Homo sapiens: one gene and its partners. The protein of the gene in region 1 interacts with the protein of each later gene in a pairwise test. Each region holds a gene or a part of one and is shown in the gene's direction. Other genes may lie near its edges. The genes, in order: PRAM1, SH3RF1, DLST, NEDD9, CDH1, alpha-crystallin A2 chain and FXR2.

Evidence for each region.
Region 2: the proteins of PRAM1 (region 1) and SH3RF1 interact in a two-hybrid assay, tested with the Homo sapiens proteins (one large-scale study listed by BioGRID).
Region 3: the proteins of PRAM1 (region 1) and DLST interact in binary tests that used the Homo sapiens proteins (3 or more experiments, as listed by UniProt).
Region 4: the proteins of PRAM1 (region 1) and NEDD9 interact in binary tests that used the Homo sapiens proteins (3 or more experiments, as listed by UniProt).
Region 5: the proteins of PRAM1 (region 1) and CDH1 interact in binary tests that used the Homo sapiens proteins (3 or more experiments, as listed by UniProt).
Region 6: the proteins of PRAM1 (region 1) and alpha-crystallin A2 chain interact in binary tests that used the Homo sapiens proteins (3 or more experiments, as listed by UniProt).
Region 7: the proteins of PRAM1 (region 1) and FXR2 interact in binary tests that used the Homo sapiens proteins (3 or more experiments, as listed by UniProt).

The regions. Positions count from the first base shown.
Region 1 is NC_000019.10:8,489,528-8,493,350, reverse strand, and holds the end of PRAM1 (PML-RARA-regulated adapter molecule 1), read left to right. Parts: intron 1-2,193; coding exon 2,194-2,251; intron 2,252-2,355; coding exon 2,356-2,464; intron 2,465-2,594; coding exon 2,595-2,757; intron 2,758-2,841; coding exon 2,842-2,875; intron 2,876-2,978; coding exon 2,979-3,013; coding exon of another isoform or gene 3,014-3,124; coding exon 3,125-3,162; 3' UTR 3,163-3,295; downstream 3,296-3,823. UniProt on the Homo sapiens protein: May be involved in myeloid differentiation. May be involved in integrin signaling in neutrophils. Binds to PtdIns(4)P.
Region 2 is NC_000004.12:169,096,595-169,100,431, reverse strand, and holds part of SH3RF1 (E3 ubiquitin-protein ligase SH3RF1), read left to right. Parts: intron 1-3,744; coding exon 3,745-3,837. UniProt on the Homo sapiens protein: Has E3 ubiquitin-protein ligase activity. In the absence of an external substrate, it can catalyze self-ubiquitination. Stimulates ubiquitination of potassium channel KCNJ1, enhancing it's dynamin-dependent and clathrin-independent endocytosis.
Region 3 is NC_000014.9:74,895,035-74,899,272, forward strand, and holds part of DLST (dihydrolipoyllysine-residue succinyltransferase component of 2-oxoglutarate dehydrogenase complex, mitochondrial isoform 1 precursor), read left to right. Parts: intron 1-3,334; coding exon 3,335-3,465; intron 3,466-4,238. UniProt on the Homo sapiens protein: Dihydrolipoamide succinyltransferase (E2) component of the 2-oxoglutarate dehydrogenase complex. The 2-oxoglutarate dehydrogenase complex catalyzes the overall conversion of 2-oxoglutarate to succinyl-CoA and CO(2).
Region 4 is NC_000006.12:11,222,464-11,226,701, reverse strand, and holds part of NEDD9 (enhancer of filamentation 1), read left to right. Parts: intron 1-4,238. UniProt on the Homo sapiens protein: Scaffolding protein which plays a central coordinating role for tyrosine-kinase-based signaling related to cell adhesion. As a focal adhesion protein, plays a role in embryonic fibroblast migration.
Region 5 is NC_000016.10:68,740,077-68,744,314, forward strand, and holds part of CDH1 (cadherin-1 isoform 1 preproprotein), read left to right. Parts: intron 1-2,402; exon of another isoform or gene 2,403-2,497; intron 2,498-4,238.
Region 6 is NC_000021.9:6,557,707-6,561,837, forward strand, and holds part of alpha-crystallin A2 chain, read left to right. Parts: intron 1-2,365; 5' UTR 2,366-3,076; coding exon 3,077-3,265; intron 3,266-4,131. UniProt on the Homo sapiens protein: Contributes to the transparency and refractive index of the lens. In its oxidized form (absence of intramolecular disulfide bond), acts as a chaperone, preventing aggregation of various proteins under a wide range of stress conditions.
Region 7 is NC_000017.11:7,593,870-7,598,107, reverse strand, and holds part of FXR2 (RNA-binding protein FXR2), read left to right. Parts: intron 1-2,113; coding exon 2,114-2,284; intron 2,285-3,350; coding exon 3,351-3,429; intron 3,430-3,760; coding exon 3,761-3,870; intron 3,871-4,103; coding exon 4,104-4,190; intron 4,191-4,238. UniProt on the Homo sapiens protein: mRNA-binding protein that acts as a regulator of mRNAs translation and/or stability, and which is required for adult hippocampal neurogenesis. Specifically binds to AU-rich elements (AREs) in the 3'-UTR of target mRNAs.

The DNA.
Region 1 (3,823 bases):
CTGTGGATGGCCATGCCTGGTATCTGGCGGGCACGATTCAGGTGCTGCTCCTTGGGCTGCTTGGAGGGACTACAGGCCTGAAATGTCCGGCGGGATACTTTGAGCCATTCGGAAAGGACATGCTGGGGCTCTGGGTTCTGGATCTTTCACTCACCAGGGTTCCTGGGGCTCCCACCTGAAGCCAATTCCTTGGCCAGCAGGGCTCTGACTTGGGAGCCTGGTCATTTGCCAGGAAGTGGCACAGGGAGACTGGCACCATGGGAGACCCCTCAGTCCAGAGTCTCATCATCAGTCACCAGTCCAGGACGCTTACCCTAGCAGCATCTTTTAAAAATTATTTTTATTTACTATTTTGAGACAGGGTCCTGGTCTGTCGCCCAGGCTGGAGTGCAGCGGCGCCATCTTGACTCACTGCAACCTCCAGCTCCCAGGTTCCGGCGATTCTCCTGCCTCAGCCTCCTGAGTAGCTGGCATTATGGGCGCCCACCACCACACCCGTCTAATTTTTGTATTTTTAGTAGAGACAGGGTTTCACCATGTTGGCCAGGCTGCTGTCAAACTCCTGACCTCAAGTGATCTGCCCGACTTGGCCTCCCAAAGTGCTGGGATGACAGGCATGAGCCACCATGCCTGGCCATGATATTTTACTGTCAACTATCATTGCCCTCCTGTGCAATGGAACACCCAATTTCTTCTTCCTAACTGTAACTTTGTACCCATGGGCCAGCCTCTCCTCATCCTCCCTTCTGCCTTAGTTTTTCACCCAAATCTCATTACAGTAGAACCCCAGAACCTACCGGGTGCAGTGGCTCAGGCCTGTAATCCCAGCACTTTGGGAGGCTGAGGCAGGGGCATCACCTGAGGTCAGGAGTTAGAGACCAGCCTGGCCAACATGACGAAACCTCATCTGTACTAAAAATACAAAAATCAGCTGGGTGTGGCAGTGGGTGCTTATAATCCCAGCTACTCAGGATGCTGAGGCAGGAGAATCGCTTGAACCCAGGAGGCAGAGGTTGCAGTGAGCTGAGATCATGCCATTGCACTCCAGCCTGGGCAACAAGAATGAAACTCCGTCTCAAAAACAAAAACAAAAACAAAAGAAACAAAAAAAAAAACGGCTAGGCACGGTGGCTCACGCCTATAATCCCAGCACTTTGGGAGGCCGAGGCGGGTGGATCACCTGAGGTCAGGAGTTTGAGACCAGCCTGGCCAACATGGTGAAACCCGTCTCTACTAAAAATAAAAAAAAAAATTAGCCGGGTGTGGTGGCATGTGCCTGTAATCCCACCTACTTGGGAGGTTGAGGGAGGAGAATCGCTTGAACCCAGGAGGTGGAGGTTGCAGTGAGCTGAGATCGCGCCATTGCACACTCTAGCCTGGGCAACAAGAGCAAAACTCCGTCTCAAAAAATAAAAAAGAACCCTAGACCCAACTTGCTCTAGGAGGCAGAAGTGAAATGGCCTCGAAGCCTACAGATAAATCCTGCCTTTACCATTTACCAGCTGGGTGACCTTGGGCAGTTTGCTTGACCTCTCTGAGCCTTTATTTCCTTGTGGACAAGTTGGGCATGACAGTGGCGTCTACTGGCATGAACAAGGTTGCTGAGAGGGCTGCCATGAGGGGCGTGGCCCAGCAGTTCCCACCATGCTGAGCACGTGGCAGGAGTTAAGGGAATGGAAGGCAATCCAGAAGAACCCATGACCCCTGAGAAAGGCTTGCGGAAGAAGGTGGGCAGGGAGAGGTTTGGGAGGGGACCTGGTGGGATTTGGGGAGTCCTCAGAACTGACACAGGGAGGCCTTACTCAAGATCCAGCCACCTGCCAGGCGCAGTGGCTCACGCCTGTAATCCCAGCACTTTAGGAGGCCGAGGCGAGTGGATTGCCTGAGGTCAGGAGTTCAAGACCAGCCTGGCCCACATGGTGAAACCTGTCTGTGTTAAAAATACAAAAATCAGCCAGGTGTGGTGATGGACACCTGTAATCCCAGCTACTCGGGAGCCTGAGGTAGGAGAATCGCTTGAACCCAGGAGGCGAAGGTTGCAGTGAGCCGAGATTGTGCCATTGCACTCCAGCCTGGGTGACAGAGCAAGACTTCGTCTCAAAACAAAAACACAAAAACAAACAAAAAACAGCTACCAGGGTAAAGGCTGAGCCGGCGGGCCCTGCCTTGACTCGGAGTCCTGACTGTCCCCAGATGAAGCGCCCTCAGTTCAGCAAGCCGCCAGGAGGCCACCACAAGACCCAGCGCTCAGGTGCCATGGGCAGAGGGGGTGGGCAGACGGGGGGCGAGCTCCAGGAACCCCCAGAGGAGCACAACTTGCTCACGAGCACACAATTCCTTGGTGGGGGCTATCAGGAAGGAGAAGGATCCCCAGCCACAGCAGTTGCCACCCATGGACCCAAAGTTGCTGAAGCAGCTGAGGAAGGCAGAGAAGGCCGAGAGGGAGTTCCGGAAGAAGTTCAAGGTGAGGCCTCTGAGCTAAGCAGGAGTCCTGGCAGGGCGGAGACCAGGGTCCCACCGATCCCAGGCTCAGAAAGAAGACAGGGGCCCAAGGGCGGCAGCACAAGCAGAGGCCCTAACATCTCGCGCCCCAGTTTGAAGGGGAGATCGTGGTTCACACGAAGATGATGATCGACCCCAACGCTAAGACACGTCGCGGGGGTGGCAAGCACCTCGGGATCCGGCGCGGGGAGATCCTGGAGGTGATCGAGTTCACCAGCAATGAGGAGATGCTGTGCCGGGACCCCAAAGGCAAATGTGAGTGCGCCCGGCCCCGCAGCCCCGGGAGGTCCCCGCCGCCACCCTGGGCCTCAGAACCCACCATGCCCACTCTCTCCACAGATGGCTACGTGCCCAGAACAGCGCTCCTGCCCCTGTGAGTGCCAGCCCTGACCGTGGTGGGGGAGTGCGGGGTGTGTGGTGCAGGGTGGGGGGAATGGGCCACGGTGCCCCTTGCTGACCCAACTGTGCTCTGCCAGGGAGACGGAGGTGTACGATGATGTCGACTTCTGCGGTACGTGGACACTCTGGGAGGGCTGGAGGGACCCTGGCGATTCCCCGGGGGCGCTGCTCACTATTGGGCTTCTGGGGAGAGGGGTCCATGGAAGTCACGCTTCCTCGGCAGATCCCCTGGAAAACCAACCACTCCCCCTGGGACGGTAAGACCGGTAGGCGTGGGGCCAGGACAGCCAGCCAGCCCAGCGCCCGCTCACCCAGGAGCCCTGGATCCCGGCGCGGGAAAGTCACAGAGCTGCCTGGGCTTGTACCTGGCCACATAAAGCCCCAGTTTAAAGCAGTCCCTGCTTCTTGTCTTTTCTTTCCCTCCTGATTGGCACACAGTGGAGCAAAGGCACGGGAACCCCCTGACCAAACACAAAAGGGGGTGTGTCTGGGGTCACCCTGCCATGGTCTCACCCCTCAGGGATAAAAGCCAGTGGGGAGAAAAGGGTGGCAAGAAGCTGGTGAGCAAGGGGGGCTCCGGGTGATCAGAACAGCATGTGCTACCAGGCAGGCAGCCGGGCAGGACGCGCCCCTCCACAGCCAACAGAACAGCAGCAGCCAGGCCTCCTTGCCAGGTATGCACACCTGCTTGGCCTGAGTGGATCCTGAGAGCGCTTCACTGGGGGAAGGGGTGGGGCCTATACCCAATTCTGACAGAGCCCAGGTATCAATCAGATTTGGCCTGAGCCTCTGGCAGGACTGAACACGCATGGAAGGTGGCACACAGTTTGGTCTGTTTCAGCAGGAAAAAAAAAAAGCCAGAGAACAAGCCTGACTCAGGCAGGGCCTGTGCCCCAGGGCGTTAACTTCACAACAGGGAGAC
Region 2 (3,837 bases), on another chromosome or scaffold:
AGGCGGAGTTTGTGGTGAGCTGAGATCGTGCCATTGCACTCTAGCCTGGGTGACAAGAGCGAAACTCAGTCTTAAAAAAAAAAGATATTTGACGAGGTGGAAGGTAATGAAGTCATCAACCAGGATAGTGACAGTGACAATGAAGAGGAGTGGATGGGATGCAGATTTTGAAGGTAGATCAGCAGGTCCCATGTAGGTCATGGGAGAGTATTCATTGACCCCTGAGGTTCAGAACTTCCCCAAACCCCTGTTCATATAAAGAAAAGCATAATCCGAGTGAGGCAGAGGGTGGAGCAGCAGATGTAAAGGGCCTCTGCAGCTGTGCCTTACATCTGTTTGTTGGTCTGTAAATGTTCTACTTGGCAAAGCCTTTCAATGCCTGAAATAGTTGGCCAGTTATGCCCAGTATTTGGCCTTACAAATCTGTATTAGAAAACTGCAAACCACCTCACAAGGCTCAAGATCAGGACCTGAGCTGGAAGATTTCTAAGTAGAGTCTATTACTCCTGCACCTGGTAGTCTTCATACGATCAAGACTGTGTCACAGTTTCCATTATGCACATAGTTTCTCATTCCACCCGCCCCCCCAGAGGTTTATAAAACTTAGCAATGAAAATTTGCTCCCACTGGGAACTTGGCAGGAAGAGTATGTTCTTAGCCCAGCAGCAGTTCTAGTTCAAAATTTTTTTTTGACAAAATTGGTTTAGTGCATTTTATAAAATGCATATATTAATCTAATTCACTTCAAGTTTTTCAATAACCATTTTTATTCCATTTCACCTTTAAGGCAGCTCACAGAGAACAAGTAGGGAATATATCTCATGAGAAGTCTACTCTGAATATGTTTTGAGTCACTTGTACATTTTTTCCCAGAATTATAAAGCTTTGCCTTAAATGTTTAACTTGCCCCACATGGCAACTACATCATTGCTTTTTCATGGATTTTTAGCATGTTGACATTAGACTTGAGAAATGTCATCTGGATCCTTCTTTCAGATAAATTCATGATGAAATTATTTGTCTTGCTTTTAAAGGTGTCAGAGAGCTGGGCATAGCGGCTTATGTCTATAATCCCAGCACTTTCTGGGGCTGAGGCTGGAAGATTGCTTGAGCCAAGGAGTTCAAGACCAGCCTGGGCAATATAGTGAGATGCCATCCCTACAAAAAGTAAAAAGATTAACCAGGTTTGGTGGCACACACCTGTAGTCCCAGCCGGAAGGCTGAGGTAGGAAGATCAGTTAAGCCTGGGAGGTCAAGGCTACAGTGAGCTGTGATTGCATCACTGCACACCAGCCTGGGCAACAAAGTAAGACCGTCTCAAAATAAAGATATCAAAGAAGGGATTCCAAAACCCTAACTGTGTTGATCTAAAGTTTGTCAAATCTCATTTTCAGGAAATGAGGCCTGAGTTGTGGCCTGAGTTCGTTTCCTAGTTAGAGATGTCCAGCCACTGACTGGCCCATTCTTCACCTCCTTGAAGTGCCAGGCCTCTGCCTACTCTTGTCTAAGCCATATGATCATAATGGGAGCTAATATTTTCAGGTTGAACTCTTTGTCAGACACCATACGAAGAGCATCATACTTGTTTAACTCATTACAGTCCTATTCTACAGATGAGGAAACAGACTGAGAGCTGAGATAACTGGCCCAAAGTTAAGCTGCTCTAACTGACCTTAAAGACTGTGTCAATCCTTAGGCCAGTGTTTCTCCCGCTGTGTCATGCTTCCTTCCTCATTCCATGCTTGATCAAACCCCAGCCTTGTGGTCTATGAATATTCATGTTTGAATTAGCTGAACCTTTCTCAGATATGATAAGCCAACTTCTGTGCTGTGCTTTTGCTTCAGATCTTGGGTAGTAATTTGGTCCCTGTGCCAAAGGAGCTCAGGTTGTTCAAGCAGCCACTTACCTTTTGCAGAGATGTGTTTTTTTAGTGTAATAGTCTGGGACTCTTGCTGTGGTCTTTCTTAAATGGATTTTGGTTTATATGGAATGGGAATTGGTGAAAGGGGCAGGCTGTAATAGGTTTCAGAAGTTTGGGGACAGTTGTATAGAATTTGTTCTGCCTATCATTTTGAAGCCATAATATTTTTCACTTTCAGTCAGGAGTGGGTCCCACGAGGCTATACACTCATTTTCTGACTTTGAGAACCAAATGAAAGTAGAAACCCAAAATCAACTTTATGACTGACTACTCATTACTTAGCATCAAACAGTGAAAGATGTATTTATTAGATATCTGTTGCCATGTAACCAGTTACGCCCAAAAGTCAGTGGCTTAAAACAATAATAAGCATGTATTATTTCACACTTTCTGTGGGTCACATAATTATGGAACAGCTCATCTGGTTGGTTCTGGCTTAGAGTATTTCTTGAGATTGTAGTCAAGACATCAGCCTGAGCTGATGCTCAACTGGGGCTGGAGGATCCCCTTCTAAGATGGCTTATTCACATCACTTTTTCTGGTTAGTTTAGGCTTTTGGAAAGAGGCCTCAGTGCCTTACCATGTGTTTCCTCTCCATAGAGATGTTGAGTGTCCTCACAACATGGCAGCCAGTTTTCCTGAGTGACCGATCCAAGAGAAAGTAAAGTGGAAGCCATAATGCCTTTTATGATCTAGCCTCAGAAATCACCCACTGTCATTTCTGCAACATTTTATTGGCCACACAGGTCATCCTGTGCATCATAGGAGGAGACTACACAAGAGTGTGAATACCAGGAAGCAAGGATCACTAGGGCCATCTTGGAGGTTGGCTACCATACACCACCATTCTTTTCCCCCCTTTTGTTGAGAAGAGGAGTAATGCAAATAATGCTGGAAAAATAGAGAAAGATAAAAGGATATAGAGTGTAAAACAAGTCACCTCCCTCTCGTTTCCTACAAGCTGTAATTCTGCACAGGAAGGCTAAGGAGCATGGAGGCAGGGGCACAGATAATATTAAACCAACTAAGCTTCTGCCATTTTTAAGCGATAATGACACCTTTCCCACTAACTCCAAATTCTGAGCCAAGGAGAAACAGACCCAAATGTCAGAATAATAGAGATGAGAATGTCAACCTCGTTACTGGTAATGTTGGATTGAACTTGTGGCCATAGCCCTCCCCTCCATGTCTGGACCTTGGGACTACCTTCCCAAGGGATAATCTGGGTATGTGGGGCAGATTACCTTCCTCAGAATTGCTGCCTCGCCCATGTCAAACACCAGTGTAAGGGACGTAGGGACACAGAGACAGACTTCCAGACTCACCTTCCTGACCTCTGTGTGCTTACAACATAGAGGTGGAGCAGAGCCTCCTTAGCCTGTGGGCAGGCGGTTCAGAGAGGACTGAACCCCCCCTGCTCAGCTACTTCTCCCAGTCTCACCAATCAAATAAATTCACTCCTGTTTCCTTGGAGAAGAGGGAGGGATAGAAATGATACCCCTCTCGGGAAATGAAATGAAACTCTCCTTTATGGCCAAGATACAAACACTGGTAGGGAACAAGGATGGCTGTCCTTGTTAAGGTCACTCAGATGAACCAGTCTGGGCCATCAGTAGTGGGTTGACACACATATCCAAATCCAGTCTTTGTTAGTACTAAGTCTCTACTAAACAGAAAATAGCAGTATTTTGAGTTGTTTTACAATCATAAATGAATTAATGTTATTTCCTATTTATGTTGAAGGTTCGTGCAGACTAACAGTACACCATTTTTTAAAATCACTGCTTTGAATCGCCTTAACCAAAATCTCTTTCTTTTCTAGGCACAGGGTGGTGGTTTCCTATCCTCCTCAGAGTGAGGCAGAACTTGAACTTAAAGAAGGAGATATTGTGTTTGTTCATAAAAAACGAGAGGA
Region 3 (4,238 bases), on another chromosome or scaffold:
TGGGTAACAAGGCGAAACCCCACCTCTACAAAAAATACAAAAATTAGCCAGGTGTGGTGGTGCACATCTGTAGCCCCAGCTACTTGGGGGGCTGAGATGGGAGGATTGTTTGACCCCGTCACTTACATATTTTCCTAAGTGATTCAGAATCGAGTGGATGAAAAGGCAAAGATAGGCTGGGCTTGTCTTTCATTTTACCCAGCTCTGACAGTGAAATGGAAAACAAGTTGTGTTTTTAAATAACCTTAGAATGTTAACCAAAGGTACTAATTCACTAGGTATGCCCATTTCTGTAGTGAGCTAATTGTTGACTTACCTGTTTTCTTCAAGATTTCAATGTGTTCAAGTATCAGCACTGTCAGGAAGAGAAATTTGACAAACGTGTTTTGAGTGCGTACTGTATACAGAGTACTGTACTGTGGAATTCAGTGGGGATAGACGCTGGGCACCATGGCTCGTGCCTATAATCCCAGAGCTTTGGGAGGGTGAGGAAGGAGGATCGCTTGAGCTTAGGAGTTGGAAACCAGCCTGGGCAACATAGCAAGACTGTCTCTACATAAAATTTAAAAATTAGCCAAGTGAGGGCTGGGTGCGGTGGCTTGCGCTTGTAATCGCAACACTTTGGGAGGCTGAGGTGGGTGGATCACATGAGGCCAGGAGTTCGAGACCAGCCTGGCCAACGTGGTGAAACTCTGCCTCTACTAAAAATACAAAAATTACCCAGGCATGGTGGCGTATGCCTGTAATCCCAGCTACTCGGAAGGCTGAGGCACAAGAATTGCTTGAACCCAGGAGGAGGTTGCAGTGGCTGATATCGCGCCACTGCACTCCAGCCTGGGCAACAGAGCGAGATTGTGTCTCAAAAAAAAAATTATGTATGGTGGCATGGACCTATAGTCTCAGCTACTTGGGAGGCTCAAGTGATCTTCCTGCCTCAGCCTCCCAAATGGCTGGGACCACTACAGGCATGTGCCACCAGGCTTGGCCAATTTTTTTAGTTTTTGTAGAGACAAGGTCTCGCTGTGTTGCCTAGGCTGGTCTCCTGAACGTCTAGGGTCAAGCCATCCTCCTGCTTTGGTCTCCCACTGGGATTACAGGCATGAGCCACCATTCCTGGCCAAAAAAGAATTTTTAAACAGGTCTTCAAGAGTGACTAGCATTTTGTCAGCCTTGTGGAGAAAGGTCATTCCAGATGATGTTAACAGTGTAGACCATGAGATGGGAAAGTAGAAGACACATTTGAGAAATTGTCAAAAATCATTTCTGTTGTGAGGATTTTGTATAGCAAAGAATGGTAAAGAAGGTTGGATCCTTATTTCAGAATGTTTTGAATGCCAGGGTAGGAGTTTATATTTAATTCAGGAAGCAAGTCAAGTCTCAGGTCATCTCTTTCTTTCTTTTTGTCCTGAGGGTTTAGTCTGCGAATCTACTTTTCATTAGAGAAATTTGCTTTTCTTTGGAAAGGGTTTGAAAAATAGGGAGAAGGGAGTGTTTTCTTGATAGTGCGCTGTGGCATTGTTCAGAGTAGGGCTCTGTGACCTGTTTTACTAGATGTCATCCATTCTGTTGGGAAACTTTCCGAAGAGACTGGATGACATTCAAGCCAAAGATTTCTCTCTTGTTCATAGGATGTAGGGGAAGGACCTTGACTAATGAATCACAAAGGCTGCAGCTTATGTTTCAGTGCATTAGGGCCAAATTGTACACAAATTGAATTGGACTTTGAAATTCTACCCAGTTTCTTAAGACAAAACATGTAAATATTTGTGGCCCTGAAAGATGCAGTTGGCCCAACAGCTTTGATTGGAAAGGAAGCGTAATAGCTGGATCTCCTTTCAGCAGCTAATCAAGGTGTCACTTAACAATGGCCTGCGGTCTTGCTGCAGCCTAATTTGGTTTAGATCGAGTGCCCTTTGGGTCTTGTGCTGATCAGCTAACCCATAAGGGACCTTTCTGAGACCTTCTCCCTTCCTCTATTGTCCCAGCCTTTGCCTCCAAGGGCAGAGCTCTGAAATAGAAGCTACTTAATGACCAGACAATAACATTTGGGCAGGTTTGAGAGCAGAGATGTTTATCACATCTCTTTCCCTCTTCTGCAGCTCTTGTGTCTTGGGAACCAGTAATGTCTTTAGGGTGGTAATCCTAGCACTAAATAAGGTTAGAATCAGGAAAACAAGCATTTTAAACCCAATCAGTCCCCCTTGGAAAAACTTCCTTTTTCAAAAACAAAAGATCTGAAGGGGGCTGTTAAAATTGTACCACATCTTACCTTTCATGCTAATGTCGAATTAGGCCATTAGAGGGAGAAAGGGAGAACTGAGCATTTGGCCCTGAGATAAAGTTAAATTCAATTTTCATCGTAGAACTGCATTACTGCATTCCGATAAATACTGAGGTTTATGCAGCAAAGTGATGGGAAAGCCATTTCTCACTAACTCTGCAATGTGTCATTGAAAAAAAACCAGTCCCAAAAGAATAAAGGCTGCTCATGTTGTAAAGGCTTTTCAGAAGGCTTGCTGCTTAATCTGAAGGGAACCAGCCTAAACCACAAGTGGCCACTTTTCTAAATACCAAGGAAATCACAGCCATTAAACTAATCTTAGGGCAAGAACTATGTCTTAATTAGCTTTGTATCTTGGTACCTGGCCCTGACCCTCACATGTAGTAAGGTGTTAGTACCTGTTTGGAAGAATAAGTGGATGGAACTGCCAACCCTGGAAAGATGAAGAACGGATATGACTTTCCGTGGGCCTGAAAGAACACTGGGTTATACCCTTCCCTGCAGAGTCATGACTGCTTTTTCCCGCATGGAGCCTCATGTACCCATGAGCTGTTTATTTTAGTCTCCACTAATCAAGAGATAGGAGGAATATCACACGGGAGTTATACTCAGATTTGGTGGGGTTTTTTTTTTTTTTTTGTATTCTAACAAGAAATAAAAAGAATATTGCTTATTTTGTAGATTTTGTTTATACTTTAAAAAATTTTTTTTCAGGATGGATAGCTCAGTTATTCAGGGCAAGGATGTTGGTGTGCTGTGTGATCTCTTGTTCATATGATGTGTCACTGAAATCTGTGACTTCTAGACCATGAAGGAGCCCTGTAAAGAGATCAACCCACCTTAAAGACAGATTGGGCCTGATTCCTGTAGATTTCTTTGTAAAAGAACAGAGTTACTGTGTTAACCTCAGGTAGACTATTTCAAAACTTGAACTAAGGTAATGGTCCAGAGTGAGGGAAAAGCTCTCACCTAATTGTGTATATGGATTGAGAAACCTGTGTGAAAGTCAAAATGCAGGCTTTGTGGTCAGTTTGTTTTGTAATATTTTCACAGTAACATCCAGGAGATGAGGGCTCGGCACAAAGAGGCTTTTTTGAAGAAACATAACCTCAAACTAGGCTTCATGTCGGCATTTGTGAAGGCCTCAGCCTTTGCCTTGCAGGAACAGCCTGTTGTAAATGCAGGTGAGTTGCTTGTGGCTGGAATTGGAGAGGTCCTGGGAGGTAGGTGTATGAGCACAGACCTGCTCCCACATGCAGAGGATCAACAGACCAAGGCTTTTTATTTGCTACCTATAGAAATATCAGTATCTTCCCCAGGGATTTCTTGGTTCACCTTCCTGAAGCAGCATCATGATTACTTTCTACCCGCCAGCTGGGCAGAACAGTTTCTCTTCCCAGTGTACAGCTCGGCAGCTGCTCAGGCAGCAGGCAGTTCTGGGATAGCCCAGCTCTCCAGGCTGTCTCCTGTCAAGGTGGAAGCACGTGTTCTGGCTTCCTCCCCTCCCCCAGCTCCACAGGCCCTGTTACCTTGGGGCCTGACTTCCACAGTTGGTGTAGGCTCCTGGCTGACCTTTGATCTTAGGTCGATGGGCCTCACTGGGAGCTTCGGCTTGGCCTCTCATGGACCTGGTGCTTATTTTCTTTCCTTTTTACTTACCTACGTCATTGTAGTGTTGACCTAACAAGCACTTTGTTTTCCTGTTGACACACTTCTCTGTTCCTTGGGAGATTGGAGAGGGGTCAGTGCTACTTTTGCCATCCTCAGCAGTGTCAGGGGCCCTAAAGGTCTAGAAGTAGAAGCCCTAGTCCCTCCTGTTGAGTGGTGCTCTAGGGAGGTAGAAGGCCATCTTTGTTTTGCCCAAATGTATACCTCTTCTTTTTCCCATTCTTCTCATGCCTCCCTGACTGGCTCTCATCTTTTTCAGTGGCCCCCTTCTGCTTGCCCACACATGTAG
Region 4 (4,238 bases), on another chromosome or scaffold:
TCACTAGAATTGTTTACCCATAACAGAAATATCAGTGAGGAAGAGAAAGTCGTCAATTCAAAAAACCAAAGATAAAATCCAAAGAATGTAAGTTGGGAGTACATGAGAAGTTCAGGGTGAACTCTCTTATCCAATTGCAGTCAATTAGAATGACATAAATGTAAAGTAAGAGGTCTTGGTTGTCTATGTTTAGATCATTTTAGGGTCAGAAAGAAATCTGAACAAATTGGTTTGAAATGCCAACCACTAGGACCAAGGCAATACTCTGCAAGAACATATAGGCTGAATTACCAGGACTTCTCGCCAAGACAAATGAAACAGGGCCATTGGGAAGAAATACTATATTTCTAACTTAAAATGCCAGAGAGTAACTGACGGTTTCCTAGGTGATAGATGGTTGCAAAGAGTACGGGCATGAAAAGGGGACACACACACACAAAAAAAAACCCTGTTTATACTTTGCCAACAACACCCCCCTCCATCTTATTTACTTTGAACATTCCAGCCATCTCTCTGCAGTAATTCCTGCTGGCTAATGAGGATTCCACACAGCTAGGGAACATGACAGCCTGCAAAGGATTATTTTCCTGAACAATCTGCATTTTAAGATAAGTCACCTTGTTGGTAACCTTTTGTACCCTTCATTGGAAAGGGTGACTCTCTTTGAAGACAGTTTGACCAAACAATGAGATCTAGGTGAATTTGAGGAAGATAGAACGGGCACTCCAGAAATATGGATAGTGGTGGAGCTGACAGCAGTTTTTCATGGTTGACGTAGGGAGTGGAGGCAGCTGTCATGGAGATATTAAAGTTGCCAGTGGAATGTTTTCCAATACATATTCCTGGGCCCCACAATGGACTATTAAATCCCAGTTATTCTTTAAAAAAAAAAAAAAAAAAAGGCCGGGCGCGGTGGCTCACACCTGTAATCCCAGCACTTTGGGAGGCCGAGGCAGGCGGATCACGAGGTCAGGAGATCCAGACCATCATGGCTAACACGGTGAAACCCCGTCTCTACTAAAAATACAAAAAATTAGCTGGGCATGGTGGTGGTCACCTGTAATCCCAGCTACTTGGGAGGCTAAGGCAGGAGAATGGCTTGAACCCGGGAGGCGGAGCTTGCAGTGAGCCGAGATTGCACCACTGCACTCCAGCCTGGGCGACAGAGTGAGACTGTCTCAAAAACAAAACAAACAAACAAATAAACAAACAAACAAAACAGCTAGTCTCTTTCTCCCTAATCCCCTCACTAACCACTACTAGTGCTTCTGGTGCTTACACGGTGTCTAAGTAGGTAGTTCATGATCCTTATTCAAAGGCTGGATCCAGTGATTTGTAAGTGTCATGTTTCTTTGCAAATCTCAGTCTTGCGAATTAGAATTCCCCCTGATATGTCTAACATATCAAGGTAATAGTTATATGATGTTACTAAAAATGTCCCTCACATGAAATGTTATGTTTATGCCCACAGGAAACAAAGATTTAGCAACAAATATGTAAAAGTGAAACCATTTCAAGCAACAAAAATATTTGATAGCCCTTTTGAAATTAATTTGAATTCCTTTTTTTACTGTGTGTATGTGTGGTTGGGGGGCAGGGGGGCGGTGGATGGATTAATTATCTGTGAAACCCAGTAGAAAGTTGCAGTAACCAAAACACGTGTAAAGTTCAGATTTGAACCAGATCTCCTGTCTACTTCTTAAGGCATTGTGCATTTAGATAGTATATGTCATTCATGTTTTTCCTAGGTTTTATTGGTCAGGCAGAAACACTGTGCTATCTCTTGGTAACTATGAGTTAGCCTTAATCTCAGTGATTCATGACAGTCCACTTGTTTTCCTTAATTTAATGCCTCACTCCCACAGGAGATGAGGCTAACTGAGGACTCATCTAGAGGACTCTTTAAGAATGAGCTGGGCTTTTCTGCCCCCCAACACCCTCCGCCTCCCAAAATAACCATAACAGGCAAAGCCAGCACACAGAAAATGGCAGTAAGTGGACTTCTAGACACTCCAGCTACTTCTGAGTCTTCAGTGTCAGGACACATCAGTCATCTGTCGATGAGATTTTTTTTTTCTTTTCCTTTTGTTCTTTCGTTCTTGTTACTAGTCACTGTGGCATGACTGAGAGTTTGGCAGGAAATGGGTTCGTGGACCTGTGGTACAGTCGCACTACCACAGCAGCATTGGCCTAGCAAAATGTTGAGCCCTCTTTCCCTTGCATGCTCCCCTGGGGCAGAAGTCCAGTGCTATCTCCGCTTCCCTGACCCTCTCCACTCAGAGCCCAGCATGACAAGCACACCTTTAAATGGGTTCAAGGAAGGGAATAGCAGAAATGAACGCAGCCCGACAGCCTCCTTTCTCTTGATAACCCCTGTCACTGTGGAGCTGGACTTCTAGGCTATCTCACAGAGGCCCAGAGGCACTGGAATCGATCTCATTTCCTTACAGACATCACCTTGTCAATTAGAGAACACATAACGTTGATTGAATTTAAGATTCTTATCAGTGCCTAGCTCTTTTTCTCCCAAATCCGAAATTCAGCCATGGCAGATCCATAATCAAGAAATATACTTACATTCCCATCCTTTGTTGTTGGTTTCAAAAATATTTCTTTTTTGTGAGTATGTATCCATGTTTTACAAACCAAAAAAATGGGACATATGGTCTGACAAAGGGAAGGATATTTGAACCTGGGGACTGCCTGGGAGAGTCCGGAAGCACATGGTCACTCTAGAGACTGTCATCAAGGGCTGCTCCTGAGATTAATCCACTGTCGAAGGCATTATCCCATCTCCCTTACAGCAGCCTTTTGCAGGAAACTGTCTAAGATGTTGTGCTTTTTTTTTCATTGACTTGTAAATAACAAGGTGCTCTCTTTCCTTTTCTTTGCAGAAATAGGCATCTTTAGAAATAAAGCCATGCCCATTTTGAAATAAGAACTTGTTTGGAACACCTGAGAGTGTTAAGCAGTGCGGGGGATTTGCATCCAATTGTTCTTGCTTTAAACCTGGCATGGGCGCTCTCGCCTCATAGCCCGCAGCACCTGAATCAAGCCTCCTGCCTCCCTTATTAAGATCTTAATTACAGACTCAGCTTAGTTCATTGCTGAAGGGAAAGAATTTCATTTCTCTGAAGTGTGTCTGTTTTTTGGTGTGGCAGGTGTAATCATGATAAGATCATTTCTGGGTTTTTTGTTTTGTTGGTTTTTTTTTCCTAGAGGAAGTTTTTTTTTCCAAGGGGAGGAGTACAGTTCTTAAGACACAATTTCATGAGCTCATCTTGGCGCAGTAATAATAACTGTGCTTTGATTTTATAGAGACTCTTTTTCCTGAAGAAATCAGAGCATTTGGAGTAAATAATCTCATGATTCCTCATATTTTTATAAAGAAGAACATGTCTATTAATATTTATTTTGCAGACAGGGAAACAGAGGCACAAAAGGCAGAGATTTGATGGTCATTAGTCTTCAAATGTGAAGTCTGAAGCTAGACCCTCCTAATTCAGTCTGGTGTCCATTCCTCTATCCAGGGTTTCTCAACCTTGGCACTATTGACACTTAGGGCCAGGTCATTCTTTGTGGTGGGGGCTGTCCTGTACACTGTAGGATGTTTAGCAACATCCCTGGCCACTCTACCCACTAGATGCCAGTAACACACGTGTGCATGCATGTGCACATGCACACACACACACAGTGACAACCAAAAAATGCCACTAAACATTGCCCGTACCCAGAGGGGACAAAAATCCTCCTAGTTGAGAAGCAGTGGTCTAATCTCTTCTACTCCTTCTCCTTAAAAATAACTGCCCTACTCAAAAATACCCCCATAGAACTGACTGCCATAATTTTATCATTACTGATATTGAGCTTAATGTAACAGGTCCTAACCAAAAAGCAACTTCCTCTTACAGGCCTAGCCCCAGTTTGTTTCAGTGAATACCACAAAATACTAAGAAGCGCAGAGTTTCATTCAAGTCAAATGTAAAACCCATCAAACCATCTCTAAGGCAACTTTAAAGTATTTCTCTGGCTTCTCTCTCTACAATATGTACCTCATCATGGAACATGCATTTAGAGCTGGGTCTTTAAGAAAGCTATTTTATTCTCATAAACTGGTGTATAACATGTGCGTGTAAGAGCTTGTCTCTCCACCTCGGCACTGAACAATTTCACAATGAAGGTTTTTTGTTCCCTTTGCTCCTGCCACCTTTTCCCTGTCTTCTAACTAAGAAGCTGCA
Region 5 (4,238 bases), on another chromosome or scaffold:
CTGGTTTCACTGAATCCCAAGTGCTTCCTTTATATCAAACCACTTTCTCCTCTCTCATGATTTTACTTGATTGGGTATCACAATAAGAGGCATTTTTTTTTTAAGAGAAATCACCCACAATTCCCCTGAGGGAACACCTCCACTGTGTCATTCTTCCAGTCTTTGACCACATGAATCTTTAGCAATCACGCTGTTGTCTTTACATTTTTTTTTTGAACTTTGGAAGTCATTCGAAGTTTTTTACAGAGAAACTACAGCTCGACTGATGAAGTATATTTGCTCTGTGTGCTCTAGAGCTTTCTATTGGATCAGAAGTTATCTCTAACTCCTGGGCTCAAGTGATTCACCCGCCTTGGCCTCCCAGAGTGCTGGGGATTGGATATTTTGATGTCAGTGGGCATTGAGGAGTGGCTTCTCGGGGAAGGCAAACTTGATCCAGTCTTGGAGAGCAAGGCAGGGGCTAGAAACAAGCTTGTATCTGAGCATGCGTCTGGGGTGTCCCAGTGCTAAGGCTGGTGACTTTGTTTTCCTGCACCAAGATATTTGGTAGCACCAAGGGTGGGTTGGTCTGGTTTTTATTTCTCCCTTCTAAGCTCCTGTGTTTGACCAATAATATTATTACATATTAACACTAATATGTTAATAATTAATAGTGACACGTATTCACTTTTGCCTCAGACTCTGGGGCAAGTGCTTCACATATTTTACCTCATTTAGTCTTCACTAGAACGTTAGGAGGGTGGGCACTGTTATTCTTCCTACTTTGCAAGTGAGGAAACTGAGGCATAAAGCAATTCTGTAATCTGAAGCATCCGCAGTTGGTCTTTTCTCTTCCTTTTTCTCCTTGTTTTTCACCTCAATAACCTGAAAAAACAAAAACAAAGAAAAAAGGTGTTTGGGGAATTAGTGTCCAATGTGAAGTAAGCTGAGAATGGAGGTGTTGACAGGGTGGGACCTCCGAGAGGGGGTGGTGATGATGGAGATGGGTCAGACCCGGGGGAGGTGGCGGGGGACCCTGGGACTGGTGATTTAGTGGGAAGAGGCAGCCTTCACACAGAATCCGCAGGCCTCTGGTGTGGTTGGTTTCAGTTCCCTTTATGTTCACAGACCCCCACCCCCACACAACAGATTTCCTGACATTTAATATTTGTTTTGGCTTTTTTGGACTGTGGGGTCTCCTTGTATCAGTCCAATGTGGAGTCGCCCCAGGATGGAAGTGCCCTTCTGGTAAAATCACACGTTCAATCTGAGGAACTGGCTTGTGATTTTAAAAGGCCGCTAGGACTTGGGATGTGGCCTGACTCTCTTTGGACAGTGCACGGAAGTGAAGGGATGGATGTAACATTGGCACCAGGTTTAGACATTGGCTTCATGGAGAATTTACTCCATGGGAATTTTGAAACTTGAAACCTGTCACTTTTTGTGCACAGGCAGCTGTAGGGTCTTAACTCAGGGGACTTTGGAGTGTTTGCTAGGGTCATTCCTCTGCCCCATGCTGTGGCTGACCCCATGATCTCAACCTTGTATTTATTCCATTGGTTTATCTCCAGCTTCTAGAATGAAGACCTTTACAAAAAAAAAAAAAACCAAACTCAACTGTAATAAACCAGTTTTTGTTTTGAGACGGAGTTTTGCTCTTGCCGCCCAGCCTGGAGTGCAGAGGTGCGATCTCGGCTCACTGCAACCTCTGCTTCCTCAGTTCAAGCAATTCTCCTGTCTCAGCCTCCTGAGCAGCTGGGATTGCAGGCACATGCCACCATGCCTTTGTATTTTTAGTAGAGACAGGATTTCATCATATTGGTCAGGCTGGTCTCAAACTCCTGACCTCAGGTGATCCGCCTGCCTTGGCCTCCCAAAGTGTTGGGATTACATGTGTGAGTCACCATGCCTGGCTAATAACCCAGTCCTTTAGAGTTGCTGCTTATTTTCCTTCTTCATAGCACACACCGGTCTGAGAAACCCAGGCTATTAGACAGTTTGGGATCTCTGAAGTATTAGCCTAGTAACCACAGCTGTAAGTTGACTCAGGCGCGGAAAAAAGAAAAGCTGGCAGGCTTTCCCAGTGATTGTTTTCTTCCTTTGCTTGCTCTGCAATCTGGCCTTGGAAACACAGGGCCTATATTTCAGTGTTGAGGTTTGGCTGCTTGAGGGGTTGACCTAGTTCACAGGCACCCAAACTTTGTGGATTAAATACACCCATTTCCCCTCCTTTTTTTTTTTTGAGACGGAGTCTCGCTCTGTTGCCCAGACTGGAGTGCAGTGACGTGATCTCGGCTCACTGCAACCTCTGCCTCCCAGGTTCCAGTGATTCTCCTGCCTCAGCCTCCCTAGTAGCTGGGACTACAGGTGTGTGCCTCCATGCCTGGCTAATTTTTGTATTTTTAGTAGAGACAGGGTTTCGACTACGGCCATACCACCCTGAACGCGCCCGATCTCGTCTGATCTCGGAAGCTAAGCAGGGTCGGGCCTGGTTAGTACTAGTACTTGGATGGGAGACAGGGTTTCACCATGTTGGTTAGGCTGGTCTACAATCTGGAGTTTTGCTCTTGTTGCCCAGGCTGGGCAAACTCCTGGCCTCAGGTGATCCGCCCACCTTGGCCTCCCAAAGTGCTGGGATTACAGGCGTGAGCCACTGTGCCCGGCCATTTCCCCTCCTTTCTGAAGGATGTGCTGAACGTTTCAGAAAACAGTATGCAGCCTCCCTAATACAATTAGACTTTTAAAAAGCAAACCCAGAAACCAGCTTTGGGATCACCTTACATCATCAGATCCCCACCCCCTACCCCTCAAACTCATAAAAGTCACTTCCCCAATTACTCATGTCTGTGACAAAGGTTGATCTGAGCTTACTGGGAAAGAAGACCAGTGGGCCGCCCTCCTGGCCTTGCCTTTGTGTCTCTGGAGGTGCGGAGGTGGAAAGTCTTGGGCCCGGCAAGGCCATGTAAAGAAGGCAGGCTGCTGCTTCCTCCCAGTGGGGCCCTGCCTGCCCCTCTCTGCCAGGTGGTTATGGAAATCCCTGTTTGCTCTCCAGGGCTTTTTATTGGGTGAGGCTTTTCTTCCAAAATGCTCACCTTGTGTCTGTTACACATTCCCTTCCAAGGTAGCCCCAGATACGCCAGAGGCTGAAGCTCTCGTATCTCCCAGAAGCTGCCCAAACCCTAAAATCCCCGAGAGGCACCTGTCCCAATCCAATCCTTGCTGGGTCTCTTTCTTTCTTTCTTTCTTTCTTTCTTTCTTTCTTTCTTTCTTTCTTTCTTTCTTTCTTTCTTTCTTTCTTTCTTTCTTTCTTTTCTTTTCTTTCTTTTGAGACGGAGTGTCACTCTGTCGCTCAGGCTGGAGTGTAGAGAGGTAGGATCTCAGCTCACTGCAACCCCCGCCTGCCATGTTCAAGTGATTCTCCAGCCTCAGCCTCCTGAGTAGCTGGGATTATAGGCACGCAGAAGCATGCCCAGCTAATTTTTGTATTTTTAGTAGATTCGGGGTTTCACCATGATGTCAGGCTGGTCTTGAACTCCTGAGCTCAAAGTGGTCTACCTGCCTCAGCCTCCCTAAGTGCTGGGATTACAGGCGTGAGCCACCGAGCCGGGCCCCTTCCTGGGTTTCTATCCTGCCTCAGCTCTATCTCCTTTGAGGGCACAAGGCTTTCAAAAAGGAGAATGAAATCATTCAGCAGTGGCTGTTTAGGATCCTTCAGCGAGGAAGTACAGGAAACTAGGTTTGAATTTTAGCCACTAGCTATTTGACTTTGAATAAGTCACTTTACTTCTATGAGTCTCAGTTTCCCCACCTGTAAAATGGGGCGGTAATACTTATTGATCTATTATGAGAATTAAGTATGTACATTCATTTAGTTCACAAAAGTGAGTGCCTGTTGTGTGTTAGCACCAGGCTAGACCCTGAGGTTACGGCAGATTGGACGGAACATACATGCCAATGGGCAGGAATGTAAAGAGAGAAAGTAGAGAGAATATTTTCAACAGTAGTTGATATTTCTTAGGGACACAGTAAACTCTCAATGTTATTTTGAGCAAATGAATGAACACATGAATAAATCGCTATCTTGGCCAATATTTTTCCCTCTCAAACTCTATGGACTTGGTCCAGCCCTTAAGGTTGATTGTAAATGGGCGGGGAAGAATTTGGTGGGTTAGAACCTTCCATTATGCTCTGTGTGTGCTGGGGATACTGTGTTCATAGCTTCCCTCTGAACAGCTGTGCAGGGCAGGCAGGGAGATCTC
Region 6 (4,131 bases), on another chromosome or scaffold:
AAGAGGTGTGAGTGCCTGGACCTTGCTCTGCCCCATGTCTGAGGACCTTGCCCTGCCCCGTGTCTGAGGACCTTGCCCCATCCTCGGCACCCAGAGCTGTGCAGTCCATAGGACCAGGCTGGTGCCCAGCCCCAGGTTGGTGCCTCAGCTGCCTCCTCAGCCTGCAGTCTCCACTGTTTGACTGACCATGTGCAGGGCCAGCTGTGAAGGACAGCACAGCTCCTCCCTCCCTGCCAAGTGTCAGGGGCACTAAAAACACTGCCATCAATGTTCTGATGTTTAAATCATGTTTTGATGCAATGTTTAAACAAATCAAAATGGGTCGGGCGCAGTGGCTCACGCCTGTAATCCCATCACTCTGGGAGGCCGAAGCGAGTGGATCACCAGAGATCAGGAGTTCGAGACCAGCCTGGCCAACACGGCGAAACCTCATCTCTACTAAAAATATAAAAATTAGCTGGGTGTAGTGGTGTGTGCCTGTAATCTCAGCTACTTGGGAGGCTGAGGCAGGAGAATCGTTTGAACCCGGGAGGCAGAAGTTGCAGTGAGCTGAGATTGTGCCACTGCACTCCAGCCTGGGCGACAGAGCGAGACTCCATCTCAAAAATAAATAAATAAAATAAATAAGTAAATCAAAATGAATGCAAAAAATTTGTGGTGGACAAACTGTCAACATTTTACATAAAGCCAGGATGAGGACGACGGCCTTCTCCTTTTGCTTCAAGCTCCAGCATGGCTCTGCCCAGCACTGACCGTGCTCCTGGCCTGGCTCGACCCTCCCCAGGGCCAAGCTCCATGCTGGTTTCCATCCCAAAGGACTCTTCTTCCCCCTCCCTGTGCCCCGGGAATAGGCAGCCAGCACAGTGGGGCCGCCCGCTGCCTCACCCAGACCCTGCCACTGCTTGGATGTTGACCCCCAGACTGGAAAGGTGGCTTTAAACCCCCTTCCCTTCTTCCAAGCCAAGTGACCTGGGTGTGCGGCTTAACCTTCTAAGCTCCCATTTCCTGGTCTATGAAGCGGGAATGATGCTGGGACCTGCTTCACAGGGTGGCTCTGAGGACCCACAGGCAGAGAGGTCTGGTGTAGGCTTTCGGGGGAAGCACCCATCACTCTCCCAGCGTTTCCTATCTGCACCTTAATTTGGCACCCCAGGGAATCGCTCCTCTGGAATTGTAACCTTGCAGGGCAAAAGCTATCATTTCAAGATTTTTTGGGATCCTGTGTCCCCGGACAGTGCTGTAAATGTAGGAGGAAGGGTGCTGCTCATGGGTGCTGCTCATGATGGAGGTGCCCCGTGGAGCACGCCTCGGAGCCCCCCCTTTCATCCCTGATCCCATCTGGGATGTGTCAGGTCTGATCCGCATACACTGGGGCATCTGACATTTCATGGCCTTCTGAGCCCATGGGCTGGAGATGAATTTGCAAAGCCCGGGAGTGTCCTGGGTGTGTGTTCACTCCACACGCACGAATCTGTTAGAGGCTGAGTAGGAACTAGGAGGCCAAAGAGAACCAGGCAACTTCCCACAGCCTGGACCGTACACTAGAAAAGCTAGCCTGGGAGAGGGGGCATGGCCTCTTCCCAGGCTGGCAGGGGGGATGTGGGGGAGGACCATGCTCCCCAGGGCCAGTTTACCAAAATATCAAAATACCAAAATATCAAAAGACTTAAAACTAGGAGTGAGCCAGGTGCAGTGGCTCACGCCTGTAATCCTACACTTTGAGAGGCCAAGGCAGGTGGGTCACCTGAGGTCAAGAGTTTGAGACCAGCCTGGCCAACACGGTGAAACCCTGTCTCTACTAAAAATACAAAAATAATAATAATAATAATAATAATAATAATTAGCCAGGTGTGGTGGCAGGCACCTGCAGTCTCAGCTACTCAGGAGGCTGAGGTGGGAGAATTGTTTGAACCTGGGAGGCAGAGGTTGCAGTGAGCTGAGATCGCGCCACTATATGATCTGGGCGCCACTCTGGGTGACACAGCAAGACTCCATCTCAAAAACAAACAAACAAAACCGGGAGTGCCTGGACACTTAGTGAGAACTGGACAGGGGCCATGGGTCGAGGAGCAAAATAATCACCAGGACTTGTGGATAACAGGATCATGTGGGTGGTGGGTCCGCATGGGTGACAGGGACGTGGGGACATGTCGCCACCCTGACAGGAGCAGCCCAACTCAACAGCCACGGCAGGTCATGCCACGGAGGCTCGAGGCGTTACGTGGGGATGTTACATCAAGGCATTACATCATTACGAGATGTAACGCTCGAGGCGTTACATCGAGGGGATGATGGCCATGGGGCTGGGCGTCCAGGGTGGGCCGCAGAGGGAAGCTCACCACGTGGTGCTCTCATCTGCCCACAGCCCAGCCCGTCTTCCTGTTGGAGGCATGTGACCCCTGGAGGACAAGCATGAAACGCCATAGGGCTCCCCCAGGTGCTGGAATTATGGCACCTTGCAGCTTCTTCTCCACGAGTTTTAACAAGCATGCGTACTTTTGTAAGTGGTGAGTGTAACGGAGGTTCACAGATGCACTCCGCTTTGGAAACCAGTGCACTCTTGCCCAGGCCCGGTGAGACTCTGACGACGATGTGTCTAACCTCTGTGTCTAACGGGGGTGTGGGCTCTCCCTCCTCTGGCGACCATGAGGACCACCCCGGCAGGACAAGGTGTGCAGAGAACTAGCATGGTCCCTGGCACGTAGCCCCTGCCCAGTGACTGGCAGATGAGAAGCTCCATTGTCGCCCCAGGCGAGTATGGGGCACAGGCGCCTCCTTGGGTTGTCTGCCCTCCCGGGAGCCCCAGGGTGCCCAGGCGGGCCTCAGCTGAGTCCAGGCCTCGGGGACAGTCCGTGCAGCCCCTCCTGGGGCTGGGGGCGGGCACTTGTCCCAGCCACGTTTCTGCTGACTGAGCAGCCTTCTTCATGAGCTCACGCCTTTCCAGAGAAATCCCTTAATGCCTCCATTCTGCTGGTGGCATATATAGGGAGGGCTCGGCCTTGGCTCCACACTGCGCTGCCCAGAGGCCCCGCTGACTCCTGCCAGCCTCCAGGTCCCCGTGGTACCAAAGCTGAACATGGATGTGACCATCCAGCACCCCTGGTTCAAGCGCACCCTGGGGCCCTTCTACCCCAGCCGGCTGTTCGACCAGTTTTTCGGCGAGGGCCTTTTTGAGTATGACCTGCTGCCCTTCCTGTCGTCCACCATCAGCCCCTACTACCGCCAGTCCCTCTTCCGCACCGTGCTGGACTCCGGCATCTCTGAGGTAAGACGTGGCCCGTGGTGCTGGCCTCTCCTCGCTGCTCAGAGGGTGGTGGCCTCGGTGGGTGGAGAGCGATGGACTCTGGTCTTGCTCCGTCAGGCAGGTGGCCTCGTCCCACTTCATCCCCTTGCAGAGGCTGGGCGAGAGCCTGTGTCCCCACTGCAGCCACGTGGTAGAGCTTCCCCTGGCACTGGGGAGAGGGTGGACAAGGGAGCAGCCTGAATCCACCTTTGCTTTCCTCCATCAGCTCATGACCCATGTGTGCTTTGTAAGGCACCAGCCACATACTGGAAACCCCAAGAGCAGCCCATCCAGGCATGCGTGGTGGCGAATGCCAGCTCCCGGGTTCCTCTGGTCTCCTGAGTCCCGGAGACCTGGGAGCAGGTGGGGGTCATAGTCCTGAAAGCCAGAGAGCAGGGCGTTCCTAGCACCTCCTCCAATGAGCTCGGCCTGCCCACGGCTAGCAAAGCTCTTGGCAAGTTTACTTAGGTGCCCTGCCAAGGCTAAAAGGACAGGCAATGGACGCCCCCCCCCCCCACCCAACCACAGGCCTCCTCTCTGAGCCACGGGTGAGCGGTGCAGGTTCTGCTGTTCTGGAGGGCCTGAGTCCCACCCAGCACCTCATAAACAGGGTCCTCCCCAGGGCTGCTGCAGTAGGCATCAATGCCAGGGTGCAAAATGCCTCAGGGAGCCAAGGCTGAGCCAGGGGAGTGAGAAGGAGCATGTGGAAGTGCGTTTTGGAGAGGCAGCTGCGCAGGCTGTCAGCAGGCTCCGGCCGCTTCTATAGACAGCATGACACCAAGGGCAGTGACCTCATTCCACAGGCTGAGTCCAGCCAGCCAGCCAAGCATCACCAGCCAGACGATTGA
Region 7 (4,238 bases), on another chromosome or scaffold:
AAGCAGGAACAGAGCACAGTAGTCCAGGTGAGAAACTTGAACTGGAGTGCTAAAGGAAGAGAGAGAGAGTAGTTTTATGTAGGATAAATTTTACGAGTAAAACCAGTAGGACTGACAGGCTCTGTGATACTGAGAGATACATATTTGGTCTCCTGACCAGGCTCCTGGCATTCAACTTCTAAAATCCTTGGAATCTCCAGTGATGTGTGTTTTTGTGTGCTGATGAGTTGATTCATGGCTAGCCCCTCTAGGTGGCTTCATGATTAGAGGGTTGGAACTTTCAGCCTCACCCCCACCAACTTCCTGGGAGGGGAATGGGGCCAAAGGTTAAGGCAATCACTGAGGATCAGTGATTTAATCAGTCATGCCTAGTAGTGAAGCCTCTAAAAACCGGAAAGGGGCCGGGTGCAGCGGCTCACGCCTGCAATCCCAGCACTTTGGGAAGCCGAGGCAGGTGGATTGCCTGAGGTTAGGAGTTTGAGACCAGTCTGGCCAGCATGGTGAAACCCCTTCTCTACTAAAAATACAAAAAAAGGGAGGCAGAAGTTGCAGTGAGCAGAGATCATGCCACTGCACTCTAGCCTGGGTGACAGACCCCATCTCAAAAAAAAGAAAAAAAAAAAAGAAAACCCAGCTGTTCTGCAAGCTTATCTAGAAGACGCTTATAGGTCATTGTAGATCTCTTCCCCTCCCCTCCTAATGTAGTGATTTTGAACACTCAACTTAGTTTATTTTTCCAACTTTCTCTTCTTGCCTGGTATAAATCCTTGGTATAATTCAGTCCTATCCAACTTGGAAGTGGGAAGTAGTGTATTTCAATCTAGGAATGTCTCCTTTCAGGTATTGTTTCTATTTGGTGCTTACAACATGGGATTCACTCCTCTAAAACCTTTCCTGTCTTCCTGCCCCTGAACCCAGGGGTTCCTCTAAGGACTGATTGAGAAATGAAGTGAAAGCCTGGTGTTCTAGAGGCATGTTTTCTGTTTTTCTTAACCCCTCACTTTTTTTTGAGACAGAGTTTTGCTCTGTCACCAGGCTGGAGTGCAGTGGCATGACCTCGGCTCACTGTAACCTCCAACTCCCTGGTTCAAGCAATTCTCCTGCCTCAGCCTCCCAAGCAGCTGGGATTATAGGCACACCCCACCAAGGCCAGCTAATTTTTGTATTTTTAATAGAGATGGGGTTTCACTATGTTGGCAGGATGGTCTTGATCTCCTGACCTTGTGATCCACCTGCCTCAGCCTCCCACAGTGCTGGAATTACAGGCGTGAGCCACCGCGCACAGCCTACCCCTCACTTTTTACTTAAGTTGTTGAGTTTTATTTGGGGATGAGTTGATATTTGTTTGATTAAGGTAAGAGTTCCTTACACTTGCATGTACCTTGTGAGAAGTACTTTCACACCAGCCTTGTCTAATCCTCTTGCTAGTCTTGAGAATAAGATAAGTTGGATATAATCACTTAGCAGATGACACAAGAGGCAGAGTATGTTTTGTTTAAGATCACACAGATAGATACTCTTAGGGACAGATACTGTTAGGGCCAAATCCAGAACTTCGGTGTGTCCCAGTCCAAACTCTGCCCTCTTTACCTTTCCTCCCCCACAAACCACTGGTATTTGGAAGGAGTGGAATTAAAAGTTCCTGACCTTGGCCGGGCGTGGTGGCTTATGCCGGTAATCCCAGCACTTTGGGAGGCTGAGGCGGGCGGATCACCTGAGGTCAGGAGTTTGAGACCAGCCTGGCCAACATGGTGAAACCTTGTCTCTACTAAAAATACAGAAATTAGCCAGGCATGGTGGTGGACACCTGTAGTCGTAGCTACTCAGGAGGCCGAGGCATGAGAATCACTTGAAGTCGAGAGGCGGAGGTTGCAGTGAGCTGAGATCGCGCCACTGCACTCCAGCCTGGGCGACAGAGCGAGACGCCATCTCAAAGAAAAAACAAAAAGTTCCTGACCTTTCCACACAGGTCCTCGTGGTCCGCGGACTCCAGAGTGGTTCTAGCTTTCTATTAATATCACACAGTTTTCCTTATTTAAGTTATGCAAAGGGTCGTGTGCCTGGGACTGTGAGATTCTACCACCATGATTCCTACAGTGACTTTTCCTTTCAGACAAGCAAGCAGTTGGCAGCAGCCTTCCAAGAGGAGTTCACAGTGCGAGAGGACCTGATGGGACTGGCAATTGGGACTCACGGTGCCAACATCCAGCAGGCCCGAAAAGTACCTGGGGTGACCGCCATTGAGTTGGGTGAAGAGACCTGCACTTTCCGCATCTATGGGGAGGTCAGCAAAGGATGTCTTTCTTCTGGGTCTCTTAGGGGATAGAGGGAAGAGAGGCCGAAGTAGAAAATAAGCCTCAAACTGGGCACAGTGGCTCACACCTGTAATCCCAGCACCTTCGGAGGTCAAAGTGAGAGGATCACTTGAGCCTAGGAGTTTGAGACCAGCCTGTGCAACATAGTGAGACCCAATCTCTACAAAAATTTAAAAATTAGCTGGAAGTAGTGGTGCGTACCTGTAGTCGCAGGTACTTGGGAGGCTGAAATGGGAAGATAGAGGGGAGGATCACTTGAGCCTGGGAGTTGGAGAACAACCTGGACAACATAGAGAGACCCTGTCTTTACCCCCCAAAAAAACCAAAAACCAAAAAACGTTAACTGAGCGTGGTGGCATGCATCTGTGGCCCCAGCTACTTGGCTACTTGGGAGGCGGAGGCAGGAGGATCACTTGAGCCTGGAAAGTCAAGGCTGCAGTACACCATGATGGTGCCACTGAACCAACCTGGGCAACATAGTCAATAGAGTGAGACCAAAAAATCAAAAAAATAGACCAGATCTCTGTTGCCCAAGCTGGTTGTTAACTCCTAGCCTCAAGCAATCCTCCCTTCTTAGCCTCCGAAACTGTTGAGATTATGGGTGTGAGCCGCTGTGCCTGGCCAAGGTCCTCTGTTTTTTTTTTTAAGTTATTTATTTGTTTAATTTTTTTTTTTTATGAGATGGAGTCTAACTCACTCTGTTGCCCGGGCTAGAGTGCAGTGGCACAATCTCAGCTTATTGCAACCTCTGCCTCCTGGGTTCAAGAAATCTCCTGCCTCAGCCTCCGGAGTAGCTGGGATTAGAGACGTGAGCCACCAATTTTGTATTTTTAGTATTTTAGTATTTTTGTATTTTGATTTTTGTATTTTTAGTAGAGATGGCGTTTCACCATATTGCCCAGGCTAGTCTTGAACTCTTGAGCTCAATTTATCCACCTGCCTCCAGCCTCCCAAAGTGCTGGGATTACAGGCGTGAGCCACCACATCCAGCTGGTCTTCTGTTTTAGTAACAACTCCCTGCTGTTCTTCCTTTAGACTCCCGAGGCTTGCCGACAGGCCCGAAGCTACCTTGAGTTTTCTGAGGACTCAGTGCAAGTGCCCAGGAACCTGGTTGGTGAGTTGGTGGTGTGTATATACAGTTAGAGGTCAGAATCAAGATTCTCTACAGTGATTCTGAGCTTTTATCCAGGATTGGCACCTCCCTGTGGACTCCCAGTTTCACAAGGACAGAGAAACAGTCTGTAATGGGAGTGATAAAAATGAAAGAATAAATTTCTAGGGATTGTAACATTTTGTCCTGTAAAAACACATCAGAAACCTAGAAGCAGGAGAATGAAGTAAATGGAATCCATATAAAGAAAATGAGGCTGGAAGACGGTGTATCAGCTTTATTCTTATTTCCTTAAAAAAAATAAAAGGCTGAATTCCTCATTTACCTATTCCAGGCAAAGTGATTGGAAAGAACGGGAAAGTGATCCAGGAGATTGTGGATAAATCTGGTGTGGTGAGGGTTCGAGTGGAAGGTGATAATGACAAGAAGAACCCCAGGGAGGAGGTATGGGTACGGGGCAAGTGGGCATAGAGATTGGTTTCCAGAAGTAAATGGGATTGTCCTCTGAGGGCTGGGATTGTTCTTTGAGAGGGTGGAGTACGGAAAGTTGTTTAACACTAGTAGATTTAGAGCCCAGAATGATCCCACTGGGCAGGCTCCCCTAGGAGACTGGGCGGCGTTAATCCTTCCATTTCATTTTCCTTTCTGATCCATCGTTTCTGCTCTCTGTTCTCTAGGGAATGGTTCCCTTCATTTTTGTTGGCACCCGAGAGAACATCAGCAATGCCCAGGCTTTGCTGGAGTATCACCTCTCCTACCTGCAGGTACCCAGGCCGGGAGAGAAAAATGCTGGGTGTGAAAAGGGAACTAAG